Linked DNA regions of Homo sapiens: all the other regions are linked to region 1. The links come from fine-mapping of genetic effects on gene expression. A gene starts in region 1. Each other region holds a variant in brackets. All regions are shown on one strand. Distances are from middle to middle. Region 1 holds the start of NDRG2 (NDRG family member 2). Region 2 holds the start of LOC105370398 (a long non-coding RNA gene). Region 3 holds the start of METTL17 (methyltransferase like 17).

Region 1 (7,112 bases):
TTTGTCCATTCTCAATTTTCAAGAGCCAGTTCAACTTGTTCTGCTTTAGTTCCTGGTTCCTCTAGAGGAACGGGAAGAATGGAACTTAAAGCAAATGTGAAAACAGACACAATTTTAGTGAACAATGGAGAGAATGAGGAAAAGAGTGGCAAAGTGGTGAACCAGAGCTGCTGAGCCCTGGTGCCTAGGAGAAGCTTAGCTAAGAACAGCACCCAGGGGCCAGCACCTCCCTCTGAATACCAAAGACACTTGGTCTGGTGTTCTCTTCCTTCCCCAACTCTCTCTCACCCGCAGAGCTCCCCATCCACCAGGTGTGGGCATGAAGGAGAGGGGAGTGGGAGAGAAAGAGACAGGTCTATCTGGTTCCTCAGGGATTATGTCACCCCCTTTCATTCCTCCCTGACTTTCTGATCAGAGAAGGCCCTCCTTAGCCTGAGGCAGGGCCAAGCATAGACCCTTTTCCTTCCCTCCACCCATTAGGGCTATTCTGTTGACTCTGGCCAATTTTCCAAACCCACCACCTTTTCTCAATAATCAAGGCGGGAGCATGAAGGAAGAAGATATATTGAGTTCAGAAGCTGAAACTGGCTCAGGAACCACGGTGAACCTGGAAGTTCTAAGGGTCTCCTTGTGCTGGAAAGAGAACTCTGGTTTGGAGGGGTTCCCAGGCCTCTCACTTTAGGTACTGCAGGACGCAAGGGATCATGTCTGCAAGCTGGTCCAGAGATGGGTACTGATATCTGGAAAAGAGAGGCATGTTAAGGAAGATACCAACCTGCCCTCACACCCCCCACCTCAGGATGTCCTACTCATTCTCTCCCAGAATAACCACTGCCCTCCCTTTCCTCCTCCCCAGTCGAACCTTTCCCGCACCTGTCCTGTTCCTCACAGTCTGGTGAAGCAGTAACGACCTAACTCTTACCCCAAAGGGAACACAGGGGCTCCCTCTTCCATTCCAGGGGCATCCACATGAACCCGCACAAAGTTCTGAATGATTTCCTGCATGTCCTCGAACTGAAACAGTGGCTGGAAGCAAGATTTATCTAAAGAGAACCCACATCACCTCAACAATAGAATCAGACAGGGACTCGTGTCCCCCAGTCAGAACTCACCCTTCCTTTCATGCCACAGTCAGACCAGGAGAGAACTTCTCCTTCCCACACTGACCCCTCCCCTCCCTCTGGGTTTCATTTCTACCCTTCCCCCACAGCCTCTTCCCAGACAGGAGTGGGAGATGAATGAAGGTCCTTACAGTTGAGTCCCACATCGTGGTAGGTAAGGATCGCTGGGCGTTTGGGTTTGGGGGTGCCATAGACAGTGAAAGTGACAGAGCCGTATGGTGTCTCCACAGAGTGAGTCTGCAGGAAAACAGGGCACCAAGAGCTAGGCTCAGAGGAGACGAGGCCAGAAAAGGAGCAACACCAAGGTCAGGGAGCTGGGAGTGGGTGGGCAAGAGGGAAAAGGGAACAAAGAATTAAAAACAGGATCAGCAAGAATTGAGGAAAACATGATACCGGAAGATGAGTTTGAGGATAAGAAAGAATAATGAAGATTAGAGAGAGAAGAGGAGGGGAAGGAAGGAGAGGGGAGAGATAGGGAAGGGAAAGGACTAGAATAGAAGGAAAGAAAGCAAAGAGAGAAGAGAGGGCCAAGCAGAGGCCATCCTTCTACTGGGGAAGAGGACAGCCCCTCCTCCCACCTTGGGACTGCCCCCACACTGTTACCTGTCCCTGGTCCAGGAGGATTCGGGCAGCTAACTCAGCCTCCTGGAGAGACACACACGGATTCACACAGAAACACATGACCATGTGGCGTCCCAGATGGAGAGACAAACAGACAAAGAGAGGCAAGTAAAGACAGACCAACAAATGACCAAAGACAGAAAGAGATTGACAAAGAGAGACACGGAAAGGATGAAGGTTAGTGTAGTGACGAGACAAGGGCCTGACTCCCAATTATAGTGTATGGGGAGAGAGACTAGGGTAGTGGTGAAGCAGTGGTGTGAGTTAGAATAAGATCAGTACGCTTGGGAAGTTAGAAGGCAAGGGGGATGCTTAGAGGTCTGGAATTTGGGCATGGGAGTCAAACGGTCTCTAATAACCTTGGCCGCCTCAGGCGTCTGTCCTGGCAACAGTGGCTTCTCCTCTGTGATCTGCACCTCCTGCAGCTCCGCCATGGTGGCCTGGCAGGATGAGGAAATGAGACTGGGAAGTTGTCTCTACATCCCCACATCGCCTCAAACACCAGGCTTCCTCTCTCAGCACAGGAAGATGCAGGGAACAGAGGGACCCAGGGGTTGAAGACTACTCTAGAACACACAGAGGGCCTTTCCTGCCCCCAGCTCCGTTTCCAGGCTGATCGGTGGAAGCTTTGGAAGAGGAATCAGGACAGCCCTTCTCTTGATACTCACCATCCCCACTGCCACCCTCAACACCACACCTCCAGACCCCTCCCTCCTCTGCCCTGGACCAAAATACCAGGGTGGGGCAGAAGTGTAGCTCAGATTTCTCGGGCTATATTTAGGGGCCACCCCACACTCTCAGGTAGGGAGTGAAACTTGTAGCTCAGTGACTGAGTATTCTAAAGGACAGGGTACCAAAAGACGGGACTGTGAGAGTTCACAATTGACCATGACCTTCAATTAAAGCCCCAAAGTCGGCAGCTCAAAGGGGGCTAAAAATGACCAAAGCAACATGACCAATGGGGGAGGTGGGGAAAACAACATAAAAGGGACATCTGTCCAACCAACCCAATGCCTCCCTTCCTCCCAAGACCCTTCCTCCCAACTCTGAATAAACTCCGCAAGTTCAACATTAGTGGGTGAGGAGCAGAGCACCTGGACAGACCTGCACAGGAAGGAGCCTGCAGCCTGCGGGGTGGGGTCACTTACTGGGCTCCTATTGGCTGGATGCAGTGGGATTAGGGGTCAGGGTTCTCACTCCTTCTGACTCTGGGGTCTGAGAAAACACAGCAACGAGGTGAATGACATGGGAGACAGACCTGGGGTCTTTCAGGGACGGAAAGCCTCAGCCAAGACCCAGACTCCCAGGGTCATCAACCTCCTCGGGTCACTAACCCTCCCCAGTGTCTGTCTACCCCTAAGTCCAGAGAACACGTCCTCTCTAGGCTCGAGCCGGAATCAATATAGGCTACAAGGGCATCAGTTCAGGCTGCGCGGAGGAGAGAAGGAAGTGCTGATGTGGAGGTAAGAGGGTGGCCCTGTCAGAACCTCCGGATTCGAATCCCGGCTCTGCCACTCCCAGTGTGACCTTGCCCCAGTTAGTTACTACATTTGGCCTCAATTTTCTATCTGCAGGGGGACTAAACGCGGGGGAATAGGGGATCCCCAAAATTTTTGACAGCTCTCCAGTAAGAGGAGGGTAGCAGAGCATGGCTGTTTCCCTCCACAATTTAAAAACAAACACAAAGATTGGTGCCGTCGCTTCTCTCCTCTACTCAGTCTCCGTGTAGGTCCCACGAGTGGAGAAAGGGAGAGGAGAGCGGTCCCACAATCTTCTCCCGTTCTCCCCCGACGGCCCGCGAAGGCAAGCGCCATCGGGAAGGGATGGGTAGGACAGAGGAGACCGGCCGGGCCCAGCACCCGGAACCCGTCCCTACGAGTCCCTACGCAGCCCGTCCGCGTGGAGACTGACACCCTTGCGTGGCCGGTGCCAAGCGCCCCGGACCTTGCACACAACCTCGCGCGCACCCCAAACACGCCCTGCAGCTCTTGGAGCCTCAGCCTTTGTGCGCAGCAACCGAGCGCCCGCTCCGTGCTGGCCCTTTCCCCCGAGCCTCCAGCTCCAGGGGACGCGGATCAATCACACCGCCCGCCGGCCCGGCTGGCGCCTTCCAGGCCCTACGGCCCCTCGCCTGCCCCTCCCCCTACCTGCTGCCGCCGCGGCCGCTTCCACCTTCACTTGCCTTTGACTCGGGCCCGCCCCGGCTCGGGCTTCCCGCAGACCCGCCCCCGGCCCGCCCCAGCCCGCCCACGGGCGCTAGGCTCCCCGCAGACCCGCCCCAGACCCCCAGTAAACACGCCCCCCCTTTCACCCCGCCCAGACTGCCGCTCAGGAAAGGGTTGTGCTGGGGCCGGGGGGCGAGGGGCGGGCGGCTGGACGCTTCCAGGCTCTGCTCGGCTCACCAAAACATTCCACCACCCCCTCCCCGCATTGGGGCGGTGTGGGGAGTGCGGGGATCCCTCAGCCCTGAGAGGGATCCCTCGGCTGCCCTCAGCACCGCCCCATCCACGACCTGGATCTGCAATTGCACTCTGGCTCCTTCCTTCGCCCCCAGACTCAGTGGTGGGAACCGGTAGTGGGGAGACGAACCCGGGATACTGACACCCCACGAGTTCGACTCCCCCCGCCCGAACACAGAGAACTAGATTAAGAAAGGAGGAGGTGGGCGGGACCGCCGCTGAGGAGGCGGGGGTCTCGCCGGCTGGCAGGGGCAGGTGTGCTGGCGCCGAAAGGGGGCACGGGGGAACGTCGAGGGCGCAGGAGTTCCGACTCCCTCGTGCCCAGAGTCCTGGTACCTCTCCTCTCTTTGCTGCGTCCCGACGCCTGCTCTCCGGCTGCTCCGGGAGAAGTTGGACAACAAGGCGGGGAGGTGGGGGCGGGGAATGCGGGGGGCCGCTATAAATAGAGGGCGATCGCGGGCAGGCGGGGGGTGGGGAGAGGATGGCCAACAGGGACTCTGGGGTCAATGCCTCAAGGGGCGCGGGGGAGGGGCCGGGGACCCCCAGAGGCTCTGACTCCTGGGTAAACAGGCGCAGGGGCGGAGTTAACCCTGCGGGGGTGGAGTAGGGGCTTGGGGAGGACGCAGTGTCCTGGGCTGGGACCCAAGAGACCCTGTGGCTTCGCCGCTAACCCCTCCCAGTCCGGCCCAGAATAGGAGACCAGCTCAGGCCCGCTGAATCGCAATGCCCGGGGGATGGTCTCAGGGTCTGCCGCGTCCCTCTCGGTGCCCGAGTGGGTTTGCCACTGTAGACTTTACACACACACGCACACGCACACACACACACACACCCTGGAATGAGCTCTCCTTGTGCCCCTCGGAGGAAGGCTCCCTGGAATGAGTTAGTTGATTAAAAATGTGGCTTAAGGGAATTCGAAGTTGTTTAGGCAAAAGGAAACCTGACTGAATTTCTCCCCACCTGCCCCCCTTGTAGCTCCCCCAATCCCAGGATCATATCCACCCCAACCCCCTTCAGACTGGTTCCTGAGTTGCCATTTCGGGGGCTGGGCGCCAGGCCAGTCAGGAACAATGGCCAATGGAACTTGAGCTGCCAACTGCAACACCAGCACCGACTGCCCCCCCAAGACCCCCAAGTTTCCCTGCCCCCTCCTGCCTGGGAACCACCCTCCCACCACCACCCTCACCACCCGCAATACCCCTCCCATCCAAGGAACATCAATGCCCCTTTCATCCCCACTTGGCAGGGTCTACTGGAAAGAAGGAGAGGCCAAGAGGGAGGAGGTGACCCACAGTAGGAAAACTGGTCGGGCTAAAACCCAGCCTTCAACAACCCCAAATCTAAGGAGCTCCCCCTACATCCCCCAATTTGGAGCACCCAACTTTTCTTCTGTTCCTTTCTCCCACTCCCTTTATAACTTTTTCCCCAGAAACTGGCACAGAAGCTGGGCACCCTGGCTCCTCTCCTAGTCCCCTCTTCCCTCTGGATGCCAGTTTAACACTCTCCTGGACAAGGAAAAGCCTGCTGGAATAAGGGTCACAGCCAAAGGTGCGCAAGACAGGAGAGATCTCATCAGCACCAGAGGAACCTGGGGAGAGGGAGAGCCTCGAGTGAGAACTTTTGCCTGCAGGCTTTTCTTTGTCAAAAGTCGTCTTACTTGGAGTGGGGGAGGGAAGGACCTGAAGGTTCCAGCATCTAAATTCGTCTCTGGGTCAGGATGACTCAGGGGGAACCTGATAAGGGGCCTACGCAGGGGCGCAGGGCAGGCAGGAGATGGGAAATTTCCACTGACATCCATTGGCTTCCTAGACCTTGGGGTCCCACCCAGCCTGCTGCAGGCAGAAGTAAGGCTGGTTCTCCCCTAAGATATGGTTCTTCCATGTCAGGGCAGCTCCCAGCCCAACCAGGGTGTAAGTGTTGCAAGGACAATCTCTGTCTAAACTCTTTCCCTTTGGCCAGAGCAGCTTCACACTATACCTTCAAGTAAGCAACAGTTTTAAGTATCTGTTATGTGCAAGCCACTGTGTAGATGAAATTCAAAGTGTGCATCTGGTCACACCCTCTCTAGACATTTGTGATGAGAAATGACATTTTGACATTTGTCAAGAGAAGGTACAAACACAGGACAAGTTATATATAAGATCAATCATTTGGACAGTAAGTCCTATAGCAGTAGTTTCCCACCCTTCTCAAGTGGGAGATTAGAGATTTCCAACCCCACATAATAGGTATAGTATCCCCTGATGGAGAAAATGCAAACTATGAATTCATCAATACTTTGAAGTAAGTTTCTGTCACAACATCTGTAAATGCGGTAATACCTACACATGCAAGGCATATTATTTACTCAGTTCACACTCACTCTTTATACATACAGATTCTAGGGCCCTTTGCAAGATTTCAGAAATCCTCACGCCAGGAGGCTGTGGCCCACAGTCTAGAAATCATTATCTTACTATAATTCAGAGAAGGAAAAGGGCTTTGTTCCTAGGATGAACCACCAAATGAGAAGTGCAACCATGGAATACTTGAGTGGGAGTGAGGGGCATTCTATCCAGGCACAGAGAGAGCATGAAGGACAGTTTGGAGGCAGAAACATTCAGGTTACTTTGGAGAACTGAATAGTAGCTTCCCATGTATTATCCCCTAATACCGTAAGGTTAGTGTTATCGTCCTCACTGTACAGATGAGAAAATTGAAACTCAGAAATGTTTAGTGAGTTGCCCAAGTCCACTCAGCTAGTAAATGACATATCTAGGATTCATTTCCCCACCCCGGTCCATTCCACTCCAGGGACTATGCTCCTTCCACTCCCAAGTAGCCTGTCAAGTGTATAGCAATTAGGCCATATGACCCCAGCTGCAGAATAATCTGGTTCTTAGGTTTTTTGTTTCTTGGGGTTCTTTTTGTTTTG
Region 2 (7,112 bases), 25 kb after region 1:
ATACATACATACATACATACATACCTTGGTCTCAGAAAGTACAGTTGGCTTTTGAACAACATGGAGGTTAAGGGTGCCTAGTGTACAGTCGAAAATCCAAGTATAACCTTTGACTCCCCCAAAACTTAACTACTAATAGCCTATTGATCACCTGAAGCCTTACCAATAACATAAACGTTCAGTTAACATATATTTTGTATGCTATATGTATTATGTACCATATTCCTACAATAAAGTAAGCTAGAGAAAAAAAAGGTGTCATTAAGAAAATCATAAGGAAGAAAAAAATATTTACTATTCGTTTAGTGGAAGTGGCTCATCATAAAAGTCTTCATCCTCATTGTCTTCACGTTAAGGAGGCTGAGGAGGAGAAGGAAGAGGAGGGGTTGGTCTTGCTGTCTCAGGGATGGCAGAAGCAGATGAAAATTTGAATGTAAGTGGACTTGCACAGTTCAAATCATTGTTGATCAAGGGACATAAGGTTCTCCCTAAAGTTATCTAGCTAACACACTCTCTTCTATTATTTATATTATCGGTCAACTAATTTCCTATTTTTTAACCATGTGGAAATTTTAAATAATTGTTTCATATATAAGCTTTCACAACAATTAATAATAGCATCTTTCTTAAAAATAATAAATAATAATAAATACCCATTTATACTTCCACTGGCTGGTAGAATTTCAATATAATAATTTTTTTTTAAGCTCACAAGGAAAATTTCACTCCAGGTTACATCTAGAGTACTCACCAATATTTGGAAGTAACTATTCAGATATTAACAATAAATCCAAATGGCCTGGCCTATTCTTATTAGTGGTGCCCTACCTGAATAGATTTGTCACTCAATCCTTCGTGTGACCTTGATCACAGCCAAGTTAAAGGATGCCAGGAATAGTGATGAAATAGGAATTTGACTATTCAGCCTTCCAAAAGCCAAAGCTGAGATACAAGAAGATAATAATTTGGGCCAAATACCAAGGCTGGCTGAACTGTGATGCATTCCTACTTGAAAGCTGAAGAATGGGAAAAGGAGAATGCTTAATTATGAGATATTTATGTTTCTAGGGCTGGGAGCTTGGAGAGAGGAGGATGGTGTCCAGGGGAGCTTTGCCCAGTCTTGTGCAGATGGACTTAAATTGTTTCAACATGGAGTAAAGGAGCGGAAATGGAGTTCAGTAAAGAAAGTAAACCAAGAACTGGAGCTAGATGAGCTGGCTCTCCTAGAAGGGAGACTATCTGAGGTAGACTGGGGAGGAGACTTTTCTACATGACTCTGGTTCCCAGAAGTCTCCACACACTGAAGTAAATGAGCCCTAGACACCATGAAGAGGGCCAACAGAATCACTGTGAAGAGAAGGATCCTCAGCTCCAGGGATTTCCTCTGCCTACACCCTGCCCTTAAGATCAGGACCCTTTGGCCCTCTTCATAGTGTCTGGGGCTCTGGGGGATAACCCTTGAGCTATGGCACCAAAAAACATACCAGTAGCAACAACATCCAGGGGGCCTTCTCTTCTCCTTGGGAGAGCTTCAACTCATTTCATCACATTTCTTCCATGCACCTGCACAACTGGGCTTCCAAAAGTGCTTCAAAGACTTCAGAGCTTCATTCTAATGTCCTCCCCCTACCCCCACCCCACCATGAATGGGCAAAAAGAAGAGCAGTTATAGCTCTTATCAGGATGCTTACCTGTGCAAGACTCCAAAACCAGTAAGCTTGGGAACATCCACGGAGCCACAGGGACATGAGAAAGCCCACATTGCTAATGAGATCTTGTAAGAAGTCCACAGTTCATAAGAGGAAAGGTAAATAAAAATGTGTGCTCGTGATGAAAATACACACTGTGATAGAACGCCTCTTAGCTTAGGGAGGTGGGAGTTTCCCCATCTATATAAGCTGATCTCAAACTCCTGAGCTCAGGTGATCTACTCTCCTCAGCCTCCCAAAACTGCTGAGATTACAGGTGTGAGCCAATGCGCCTGGCAATAATGTTACCAACAGATGGTTTTTGGGCTTGAATACCTTCAGGGACATGGATCTTCACTACCACTTCACAAGAGTATAATGTGGATTAAAAGTAACAATACATATAAAGCACTTAGTACAGTGACTAGCATGTAGGGAAAGTTTGAATGGTGTTAGCATTTCTATTTATCATTGTGGTGTCAAATGTTGAGTGGTCAAACCTGTGATGAATGGAGCAGGCCTGACTTCCGTGACAGAAGAACAAAGGATTTAAACAAGGGAGGCCAAACTCCTCCTCATCCGCCTCTTGCCAAAAAGCTCCTAGCCAAGAGTAGATAAGGGAAGGTTCAAGGTCAGACAAAAAGGACAATATGTATTAGTTTCTGTAGATAAGGTTATTTGGGAGGAATGGATGGGTACTTTGAGTTGAAGGAGAAGTAAAAGGGGGCTTTGGAGAATTTCTGTTAAGATTACTTAAGGGAAGTTTTTCTCCTCTGCAACCTCTGTGAATTTATGAATCCAAAGATATGAAAATAAGTTGGAGGACTTAGGACCACTAACTTTTGAGGGTGCCCTCTGTATTCCCTCCCATCCAAAGGATTTGATTATTGCAGCAATTGATGGAGACAGGGCTCTAGTGACATTTCCAACTTCCCCTCCTGAGATATTTAAATTAGTCCTTAGGAAGGCTTACTATCCCCTCACTTCCATCGTGGAAGCCTCTTATATTTTTCCCACCCTCTGATTCAGCTCCATTTTCTGGTTCATTTTTCATCACTCAAAACCTCCACCAACGCCTGTGACTCATGTCCAGTGGATTGGTTATAGCAGAAAAACATTGTGGTCATTACTTTCTATGGTTTTTTCATAGAAACTTAGTTGAACTTACACATTTAAAACATAAACTAACTGTGGTGTGAATTAGTACAAATTCCTGCTTGGGTCGTGGCATTTAGCACAAGATGAAATTTCCTATCTCCATGGCTTTAGGGCTCTCCCAGTAGTAATCATAACATTATAATGCTGCAAGACATCTTGTCCAGTGTTCTCGGAGATCATCTAGTCATGCCTTCCTCATGTTGCAAATGAGCAAAATAACCCTGAGGACTTAAACACTTTGCCCAAGATTACATGAATAATTTAGGCAAGAACTCGGGCTTTTTTGAACAAGCCTTGTGATATTTACAAAGTGGCATTCAATATCAAATGGATCTCAGACATCTTTCTTCTTTTTTTTTTTTTTTTGAGATAGAGTCTTGCTCTGTCACCCAGGCTAGAGTGCAGTGGCACGATCTCGACTCATTGCAACCTTGTTGAGCTTTTTGGCCTCCCAGGTTCAAGCGATTCACCTACCTCAGCCTCCTGAGTAGCTGAGATTACAGGTATGCACCACCATGCCCGGCTAATTTTTGTATTTTTAGTAAAGACTGGGTTTCACCATGTTGGTCAGGCTGCTCTTGAACTCCTGACCTCATGTTCTGCCTGCCTTGGCCTCCCAAAGTGTTGGGATTACAGGTGAGCCACTGTGCCCAGCCCAGATATCTTTCAAGATCAAATCATACATGGACTGGCAAATCAATCTGCAAATGGGCAGACCCCCGGATTTGAGACAAAAGCATGTTCATCCAAAAGAGTATTAAGTGCCCGTAATCCTGACACGTTGCATTTCTGACCTTCACCTGAATGCTCATATTGTATCATTGAGATGGGAAAAAAACAGTACATGAGGAATTGATGGCAAACTAGTCAAGCATGTCCCTGGCCGTGCCATTGGCTGCTGGAAACATAAATAAGGATATGCAACAAGAAAAAGGGCCTGGACCTCCCATCTGCTACTCCGGACCAGGGTGAAAACATTACAGAGATCCTGTTTGGTGGAGCTCCGGGTGGGCCTGAGATATCCCAAGCATTTATCTTTGGTAAGGGTTACCACTTTTTACCCTTGAATTTGGCATATCCAGAACAGGATCTTCATGGTCAACTAGAACCTGCAGAGCAATGCTTCCCAGAATTTCCCCTGAAGTGCTAGTAACCACAGAGGAAGATGAACTAAAACACCTAAAGTAGTGCCCAATGAGCTTGGGCTTTCTCTGAAGCTTCTTTCACTTAACTAATATTTATAAAATAGCCGTGCATATGAGTGTTTTATATGCTATCTTTAAATTTCATTTGTGGTAATAATAATAATGGATCAATGTCAATTTCCCCTTTTTGGTGGCTGTACTGTGGTTATGCACACGAGAGTACTTGTAATTAGGAAATAGTCACTGAAGTATTAAGGGGTAATGAGCATCATGTCTGTAACTTGTTCTGAAATAGCTCAGAAATGTTAATAATTGGGGAACTGGGTGAAGCATATAGGG[G/A]AGCTCTGTGTATGCTTTCTGAAACTTTTATATACGTTTTAAATTATTTCAAAGTGAAAATGCTAAAAAAATTTAATGTAACTCATTTGAATTTTTCTATCATACAAAGTTATTTTCTGTAAAAATAATGCCTTAAATTACTCCCCATCCCCTAAAAAGATGGTTTTAGTAAAATTGTAAAGAACACATTTATCTTGTGACTTTGTGTACCCTCTGCACACATCTGTGTTCCACCTGGGGTAGCAGTACACTGGCTCTAATGTTTTCCTTAACTTGCTCTTTGTGGATTTCTGTCTCTGACCAGTGTTTCTTTTCAAGAACTGGTTGAGGAAGATAGGGTAGTCATGGGGCTAGGGCATTGGAAAGGTCCTTTTCATGCTGAAAAATGAGAAAATAGACATAGAGCACTTGGAACAGTGACTGGAACATAGAAAAGCCTCAGTAAATGTTAACTATGATTGTTTTTATCGTTATGACCCCTATCATTCCTAGCAGGGCTGAAGGCTGCACGCAGCCTTGTTGTGGTAAGTCAGAGGTCTCAGGAGGGCAGCCGGCCTATGAGGGGAACTGGCGTATCCAGGGAGCCATATGCCTCAGCTCTGGTTGGGTTGAAGACTACATCCTCTCCCTCATGAAGATGAATCCAGGAGTGAGGAACAAAGGGAGACAGTCCTCCCGCAGAGACAAGCTCATAGTGCAAATGGGCACCATAGGAAGGCCTCAAAGAACTACATAGAAAAGAAAAATGGACCTGGCAGGAGACAGGGTTAGCCACTGGAAACAGAGGAGGGCTTCCCAAAAGGAATGTGGCCACTGGATTCCATGTGATGGAGCTCTGCTTCTCAGAGCCATAAACCAGGGCCCAGACCACAGGTCTGTCACCACCAGGAGGCTGTTTGAAGGTTGAAGCTTGAAAAACCCTATGGGGGTGGCACTTGTAGTTCAAAGACGACCCTCGTGGTACTGCTGTCCTTCAGGCCAGCAAACCAGGCAAACTTCTCTGGCACCCTCGCTCAGCCCTCCTGGGGTATCCTGAAAGAATGGGTCTTTGGGAGATAGTTGCTTATTCTCTGCTCCCCTTCTTTCAAGGCACCTTCAGAGTCTACTATTAGGCCTCTCCTTCATACTAGTAAGGTGCTGGCTACTTACTAGCACTTTGATGTTTTTTCTTGTGTCACACAAGTGTCAGAACCAGGGGGCATTTTAGACATTATTCAACTGAAACTCCTTGTGTTATAAATAGTAAGAAGACTGAGAGGATCAGAGTGATGACTGAGTTCAATGCACGGTTACTGAGTGCTCCTGTGAGCTAGCCATGTGCCTGGCACTATGAAGACAGAGAAGCACGGAAGGACCTGATTCCTGTCCCACGAGTTTACCGTCTAGTTGGGAAGACTGGATGCTCTTACTGGATGAAAGAGTTAAATAGCAAAACAAGGTAGTACACGATTTAGAACCCAAATGAGTGATACTATGAAACAGTTAATGCTAAAGGAGGTTAGGATTTGTACGGCAAGGTTCGTAAATGTGATCCTGAGCAAACTCATATGGTCAAGATGAGTTCTAAAGGATGGATAATATTTGAGGGAGGACTTGCAGGGAAGAGGGAAACAGAAGCAAAGCTGAAGAGAGCAAAACATGTGCTGGAGACAAAAGGAAAATCAGGTTATTAGGATAGAATTTGGTTAGAATAGTTTGTGTTCGGAGGGAAGATAGGGAGGCCACTCATACGGAATGGGTAGACTGGACGCAAGGTGAGTAGGAGAAGGCTTTGATTCCAGGCTGGGAAGGCTGGATGTTACCTTGCAAGCAAGAGAACCACTGGAGATAAACAGATGATCTTTAGAGAAATGATGCAGGAAAAGGAATATTTTAACAAGATCCATCCAACATTATTATACATGCTCAATTAAACTCAGGAGAAAGGGTAGGCAAGGAGGCAGTTAGAAGGTGGTGAGAGTCATCCAGACAGGCAGTGGAAAGGGAGAGAAATACGTACAAGAGAACCAATAAGACTAAGTGACTCAAGTGCCCCTCCATACTTTGATCATGCTAAGTATTCAGTCTGTTAGCCTACTAATCGATATGGGGATGAAAGATTAGAAACAGTCAAAGGAGACCAGTATTTTCAACTGGAAGCGCCAAAAACAGAAACAGGGGCCTTACAAGGGGATAATCAGGTTTTGAGAAAAGTTGAATTCTCAGACAACAGAACTGGGTGCCTGATATAACTGGTAGGTAGTGAAGATTCATGTCACTGAAGGTATTCAAGCCCAAAAACCATCTGTTGGTAACGTTATTGCCAGGTGCATTGGCTCACACCTGTAATATCAGTACTTTGGGAGGCTGAGGCGAGTGGATCACTTGAGTCCAGGAGTTTGAGACCAGTGCTGGCAACGTGGCAAAACCCATCTCTACAAAAAATAGAAAAATTAGCCGCACTTTGGCCGGGCGCAGTGGCTGACACCTGTCATCCCAGCACTTGGGGAGGCCGAGGCAGGTGGCTCATGAGGTCAGGAGTTCGAGACCAGCCTGGCCAAGATGGTGAAACCCCAGCTCTACTAAAAAATACAAAAATTAGCCAGGCGCGGCAGTGGGTGTCTGTAATCCCAGCTACTCAAGAGGCTGAGGCAGGAGAATCGCTTGAACCCAGGAGGCAGAGTTTGCAGTGAGCCGAGATCTCGCCACTGCAGTCTAGCCTGGGCGGCAGAGCAAGACTCCGTCTCAGAAAAAAAAAGAAAAGAAAAAGAAAAATTAGCCACACGTGGTGGTGCAGGCCTGT
Region 3 (7,112 bases), 38 kb before region 1:
CCAGCGGGGCCACCAGATTGTCCAGGTGCTGCTCTGCCTGGATCAGCTGTTGCTCCAACTGCAATGGGTGCTTCTTGCCTGACTCCTCTTGGAGAACTGCAGCTTCATCTTTCCCCTGTTGTGGAAGAAAAAAGGGGCAATACTGCAGCAAAATTGTTCTGCTCCATCACCTCAGTCTCCAAAGCCAGTAAAGAGAGGAGTGTCATTTAAGGTAGAGAATGCTATTGGGATTTTACCTCAGAGAATCACAATTACTTCTAGTCTAGTTCCTCACCCAGCACATGAAGCAACATGTCATCGTGTCCCACACATGGTCATTCGGTCTGCTGAAACACCTCCAGGAATGAGCAGCTCTCTCGCGTTTGATTGAGCTCTGGTTGTTAGACAGTTCATATACAAAGCCAGAATTTGTCCTTCATGTATCTTCTTTCCATAGCCCTGATTAGAGCCTTCCAAAATAATGGCTCTTCAACGTGATAGTTCCTCAGGAATTTGAAGACAATGGGCATACCCTTGCTCCCTTTCCTGAGTTTTTTCTGGTTTAATATCTTTGATCTTTTCAGTCAGGGCTCATTTTGCATAGTTTTCTCTGGTTGCTTTACTGAACATATAGCGCTCTTAAGGCAGTTCTGGGAGACAAAAATTCTCCAGGAATGTTCTGGTCAGTAGATAAAGCACAACACCTTGTTCCTACCATTGATTTGGGAAGTAGGTTGTTGGTTGTCACATCACACCATAAACTTATTAGTCAACGGGTAGGCCTAAGTCTCTCTCATAAGTGCTGCTGCTAAGAAATATCTTCTTCCAGACTGTACTCACGCCGAAGGATAGAATTTACTAAACTATCCTTGTTAAATTTCATTATTAAATCCAGTCACTCATCCTAGCCTGTCATGTCTACCTGGGATCATTATTAGCTATCTCTTCTAGTTTCATACATCAAAATTGGTTCAATCGGTTTTATTTTCTAATGCAAATAAACAATAGGGTCAGGGCTGAAGATACTGTCCTAGAAAGTTTACTTTCCAAAATGTACCATCAACTCATATTTAAGGGCCTCTCTCCCTAGGAGAACATGAGACCACTTGATGTCTTGAACTCTAGAAACACTATGGTTGCAGCAATCAACCCCTTGTGCCACAGTTGGCCCCACTTTAGTAGTATGAACACTAGCTGAGTGTCCAGCTCCACCAGTTGCTGCTCTGGGTGACCTCAAGCAAGTGGCTACTCTTTATCAGATTGTAGGAAAATTAAATGTGATGGTCATTATTCATTTACAGTTTACCACGTGCCTTCCACATTCAGCCTTACCTCGCTGAATCCTTAAAATTACTCTATAATGTTGGAGGCCAATCAACTATTATCTTCATTTTACAGACAGCGGAAACTGTATCTTGCTCTCAGTACTATGGTGCCCCCATGAGAGATGCAGACTCAGGGCACCCAGACCCCCAGCCATCTCTGCATCTGCAACACTTATACAACACAAAAGCCACAATGGCTGAAGTGTACAGCATTCCCAAAAGCAGCACCCTGGCCCTGGCCCCCTCATGCTGGTCCTTGAACAGCAGTTGCCCGCATTCTGTGGCCCCAGGGCCTACATGGGCCGGGTTCCCTGTGGAAGGAGGGCAAAGTAGATATTCATTCTTTTACAGATTTTACATAAAGATCTGTGTTTTTTTTTTTTTAGGTTTATGTTAGTTGACATGGAATGGAGGCATTAATCAGGTCAAGACTAAAATCTAGAGAAGATAAATCCAATGCATATGGAGCAGTGGAATCACTTCAGGAGGAACTGAACAGACTGCTTTAATTCACTGCAGAATTTTGAACAGCAAGAAATCCAAAGACTCAAGTTTCCAGCATAGAGGTGTGATGAGATGGAGAATGTTTGTATGAAGAGAGAAACAGGGGTGTTGCTAAAAACAAAAAAGAAGCTGGGTTCCTCCTTGGAATGGCCCTCCCTTGCTCTACTTGTTTTGGGTTTTAGGCTCCCCTTTATACAACATGGCTCTTTGGAGTGCTGGAGTAGGATTAAAAAGAAGAAAGAGGCCAGGCATGGTGGCTCACACCTGTAATCCTAGCACTTTAAGAGGCCGAGGCAGGTGGATCGCCTGAGGTCAGGAGTTTGAGACCAGCCTGGCCAACATAGAAAAATCCCATCTCTACTAAAAATACAAAAAAAAAATTAGCTGGGTATAGTGGCGCACGCCTGTAAACCCAGCTATTCAGGAGGCTGAGGCAGGAGAATCGCTTGAACCCAGAAGGCAGAGGTTGCAGTGAGCCGAGATCATGCCATTGCACTACAGCCTGGGCAACAAGAGTGAAACTCTGTCTTAAAAAAAAAAGAAGAAGAAGAGGAAGAGGAAGAAGAAAGAGGAGGAGGAGGAGGAGGGAGAGGAAGCTGAACTGGCTTGTAGAAGATTTCATAGATGTCTGATGCCCACAGTACTATCAGAGCTTGAACAAAAACAGCTCCACCAAATTCAAAGTAGAAATTTGGAACAAGATTTGAACAAGAAAAAAAATACCACTTCCCATAACACAGTCTCCTCCTCTCCTAGCTTTAGCCCTTAACACAGAGTGTGGCACATCTAACATGGTCAGTAAAGAATTCCACCAACTCAAGAACGAAAAATAAACTCCCTATCATGGATAAATGTCTTTCCCCATTATATATCTTTCTTTCCTCTTTATCTTCTCTTTCTTCATCCCTTTCTTCTCACATTTTTTCTTCATTTTCTGTATAATAGCAAGTCTCCTAGGCCAGGTGGCTGTGCTGGCCATTCCCAGTAGTTCTCAAAAACACAAACAGATCCTTCTGGAAAGTTCTGTCTTGAATTGGTCCCTGTTGCAGGACAGTACATTAGAAATGGTATTTCTAGAAGGCTTGGAGAAGTAGATGATAAGCCAGAGTTTCCTTCTTGGGATTCCTCTCCCGAGTCTGAACTGGAAACCATTGACCTAGTTGTTAAACAATGGAGGCCCCCAACCCAGAACATTTTAATGGGATAACTTTTAGATTTTCTTGAGAAACATGAACTGAGAATAGAAAGACTTCTACATTCTCTCACTGCCCTGGCCATTCCGGTCCCTATTTCAGGGTCTCAGTCCCTCAGGAGAGATATACGAGACCCCCAATGGGTGTCCAATCCTTGGATTTTCCTCTAAGACTTTATCCATGTGTTAAGAGTCCACAATGCACCTCCAAAGAAGCTCCTGTGTGACCACCATTCATCTTCTGAGGATATCAGCGATCCTTTCATGCCATCCCATGCCAAGACTAACACTGCTCTGTGGTGATCCCCCATCCTATATCTGTAGGAAGCCATGCTGGGTCTGCCCGAGCCAGAGTTTTCAAAATCTATAATCCCTCCAGAACCTCCTTGCTTTCCTCAACATAGATTTTTGCCAAAGGAGATCAGATCCAATTGGAAGATCCCTCCCCCGCAGCAGAATACTTTGTAATTGGATTAGTCTCAACAGCAACAGTAGTTCTGGCCTTGAATATGAGTTAATCAGCCAAGTCACAACACAAGAAAGCTGACTGCACCAGAAAACCCTGTACAATCCGTGAATTTCTTCATGGTTGAGACTCAGATGAATCATCATGTTGATCTGACTCATGCTTCTCCCTGCCTTAGGCCAAGAGACTGAGGCTTCACCTGGGATCTGCCTCTTTCCCACTCAAGAGTCAAATGAGCCCCCAAGGAGTAAGAAAAAAATGTGATTGATTCTGATTTGCACCCCAGTCTTTTTTTAATTTATCATAAAGAATCAAATATTTACATTAGAAGATATCTTGTGCTGTGAAAAAAAAGGAATAAAAGAAGGGAGGAAGAAAAGAAGTGGGAGGGTGGGAGAGAAAGGAAACAATAGAATAAGGCAGGCGCGGTGGCTTACGCCTGTAATCCCAACACTTTGGGAGGCCAAGGCCAGAGGATCGCTTGAGCTCAGGAGGTCAAGACCAGCCTGGGCAACGTGGAAAGACCCCATCTCTCGAAAAAAATAAAAAATTAGCCAGGCACAGTAGCATACACCTGTCGTCCCAGCTATTCAGGAGGCTGACGTAGGAGAATCGCTTGAACCTAGGATGTGTGGCTGCAGTGAGCCATGTTCTCACCACTGCACTCCAACCTGGGTGACAGAA[T/C]GTCACCTGTCTTAAAAAGAAAACAATAGGCTAGAAAAAAAAGAAAAGAAAGCAGTAAGTGACATAAGACCAAGAGGAAAAAGGGAAACTTGAGCATCATCTGTCCTCCCAGTGGCCTACGGAGGGAAAAGAGTAGACACTTAGCTTCACAGTCCACCGCAAATCAGGCAGGGTCACTTCTGCAAACACTGGTAACCTACTAAAACCCAAGCACAGAATAAGACAGACACTGAGATTCAGAGATAAAGTCAAGATGGCTCCTACTGTTGCAGGGGAACTAGAATGACTCAGAATCCCAGACAGGTCATGTTTGAAGAGGCCATTCATTCACTCCCATTGAGGTGAAAGTTGCATCCCTTTCTCCCTTCTCTCCTTCTCTTATCCTGGAGCGCAAACATTGTGTGGAGTGCAAACATTGTGTGGAGCCCCTACATAGGCGCGGTGGCTTATGCGTTGGAGTTGAACTACTATGAAGGTACTTGAGATCTGGTGATTCCCTTGGATAAATTTCCTACAAGGAATCATTTCACAAAGTTTTATGGACAGAAAATGCCCATAATTTGGATGGTGGCTTTTGGAGCCGTGACATGATCTCAGCTATATGAATAGAATTATAAGGACAAGATGCTGAGGGATTTACTCAAGAGCTCTGACTAGCTGACAGTAGAATCTTGGCAGATCTTCCAACACACACATCTAGTATGGCCCAATCTTCAGAATTATCTGTGCATTTGGGCAAGAATAGGCCCCATCGCCAGCACCCTGGCATTTGGGCAAGACTCGCACAAAAAATGAGGGATGGCTTCAGGAGTAAGAACCTTTGAGACGGCCTGGGTTGTGGACTTAATAGTCTGGAGAGATATCAACAGGTATCAATTTAATTTAATGGTTCCATTCCTCAGATATCTCTAGGGCAGAGTCCTCAGCCCAGGGCACACACAGAATCACGACTCTGAACGTGAGCATTCTCACTGGAGGGGTAGAGGTCACTGTGGTGACCCTTTTGAGCACCCAGGAAAGATTCCCAGGTAAAAGGAGGACTGAGGAAAAGCTGGAAAAGAGGCAAGTGTCAGCCTAGGATGTGTCAGTGGGCCATGCATTCATCTACAGGAAGGGCGGTTCCGCCTGGAAGAGGCAGAGCGGCCCTTCTCCCCCTGTCCACCCATGTCTCCTCACCCCACCTCACCCCGAGATGAGGAGCCCTGAGAGAGCTGGCAGGCTGCAGTCGGTGAGGTCTGCAGATTTGGGGAAGAAGTCGAATAAGGTAGAGAACCACAGAAGGAAAGTCCAATTAGGGCGCTGGGGCCTGAGATCATCAGGCCCTAGCCTGATGACTCAGGAGTCTAGCCCTCCAGATGAACTGGCTGGTTCCACACACAGGTCAAGTGGATGTGCTGGGAGAACATCCTAAACCTGTAACGGAAATTAGGGGGCCAGGAGCCCACAGAAATCACACACTGGGTGAGCTCAAGTGTTCGGAGACTGAGGTAGCAGTTGTCCACTGTCAGGTCCCGAAAGTAGATATCGCCTTGCATATGCCATTTATCCTTCTGATGCTCTAGTGAATGAAGGTGTTGATGAGCTTGCAGACTCTGGAGACCATTCCCCTATGCTATATTATCACGTCACAATAGTGGCTGGACCCACCTGAGATTCTGCACCTCAGGTAATCAGACGGCTACTGTCTAAGTCCTGGGCCTGGGGGAAACACTCTGACGTAGCAGCAGACACAGGAGGGTCCCCGTCAGAACCATGTTTTCTGTGAAGTGGGGATCAGTCCTTTTCCCTGAAGTACCTAGCACATAGGTGTTCTCAGTAAGTGTTATGTTAGCTTACTAAGAAGACTGGTCTCATTTGAAGAGAAATTAACAAATGTAAAAAAATAAATAAACCTATTAACTAGGTTTAATATTTATCAAACTATTAACTATTCAATAATCATTTAACTATTAATTTCTGTTTTCTTCAGTCGCTTAAATCTGATTTTTCTCTTCTTTCCGTTACTGCAGTCTCCCTTTTTCACACAGGGAAACAACCCAAGACTCAGAGTTCTCCGCGGAGGAATGCAAAGAACACAGGAAGTCAGTACTCCCAGAAACAGTCTTTGCTGGCGCGCTCACACCCAACCCCATCCCGCCCCCGTCCCGTCCCGCCCCGCCCCACCCCACCCTCTTGATTTCTGGGGCCGGTGACCAGGCCCAACGCAGCCTTCAAGTCGGCCCAAACACGGTTTCTGCCTCAAGGATTATTTATATAACCATTGCTTATTGGCTGCTGGCAAACACTCGCTCTTCTCGTTGGCTGAAACTGTCGGGAGAAGTTCTGCGAAGGCTGCTCCTTGCGGCGTTGGGACTGAGGGTCACAGGCACCTGTATTTCCGTTTCCGGTTCGCCTCCGGAGCCATGGCGGCGGCACTGAAGTGTCTACTGACATTAGGAAGATGGTGCCCCGGCCTTGGAGTGGCTCCCCAGGCCCGGGTGAGTGCCTACATTCCCTGCTGTCGGAGAGACTCTGGATCTGCAGAGACATCTCCGCGCAGAGGAGGAGCGCTCCTGGCAGCCCCCGCCCTAGCGATTGCCAGCAACTTTCCTTTCTGCCAGGAAATCAACCTACCTTTCTCTGCCTGCAGGCGCTCGCCGCCTTAGTACCCGGAGTGACCCAGGTAGATAACAAGTCCGGTTTCCTGCAGAAGAGGCCTCATCGCCAGCACCCTGGCATCCTAAAGCTGCCGCACGTGCGGCTGCCACAGGCACTGGCTAACGGTGCCCAGTTATTGCTACTTGGTGAGTAACGGCGGGAAAGCGAGAAGAAACGGGACTGGACCTACATGCAAGTGATTCCGCTTTTCGTCTTTGGCCCATAGGGAGCGCTGGGCCCACTATGGAGAATCAGGTGCAAACACTGACCAGTTATCTCTGGAGCAGACATTTGCCTGTAGAGCCAGAGGAGTTGCAAAGACGGG

Evidence for each region.
Region 2: its variant is fine-mapped to the expression of NDRG2 in whole blood (TOPMed, PIP above 0.99).
Region 3: its variant is fine-mapped to the expression of NDRG2 in whole blood (TOPMed, PIP 0.92).

Annotation. Positions count from the first base shown.
Region 1 is chr14:21,021,140-21,028,251 of GRCh38, forward strand. It overlaps NDRG2 (NDRG family member 2), which reads right to left and starts at 3,922. Exons shown (of 16, transcript NM_001320329.2): 1 at 2,891-3,922; 2 at 2,102-2,182; 3 at 1,725-1,766; 4 at 1,253-1,358; 5 at 923-1,043; 6 at 678-740. The coding sequence starts at 2,176. MIR6717 (microRNA 6717) reads right to left here and starts at 2,247; the gene lies at 2,175-2,247. It also overlaps a transcript of TPPP2 not described here. RefSeq lists a silencer at 3,755-4,044.
Region 2 is chr14:21,046,571-21,053,682 of GRCh38, forward strand. It overlaps LOC105370398 (a long non-coding RNA gene), which reads right to left and starts at 2,125. Exons shown (of 4, transcript XR_943588.3): 1 at 1,692-2,125; 2 at 1,485-1,576; 3 at 296-360. It also overlaps a transcript of NDRG2 not described here. The variant G/A (reference allele first, on the strand shown) is at 4,331.
Region 3 is chr14:20,983,451-20,990,562 of GRCh38, forward strand. It overlaps METTL17 (methyltransferase like 17), which reads left to right and starts at 6,530. Exons shown (of 14, transcript NM_022734.3): 1 at 6,530-6,627; 2 at 6,780-6,933; 3 at 7,014-7,112. The coding sequence starts at 6,553. It also overlaps the pseudogene LOC100130571. RefSeq lists a silencer at 6,177-6,306 and an enhancer at 7,057-7,106. The variant T/C (reference allele first, on the strand shown) is at 4,151.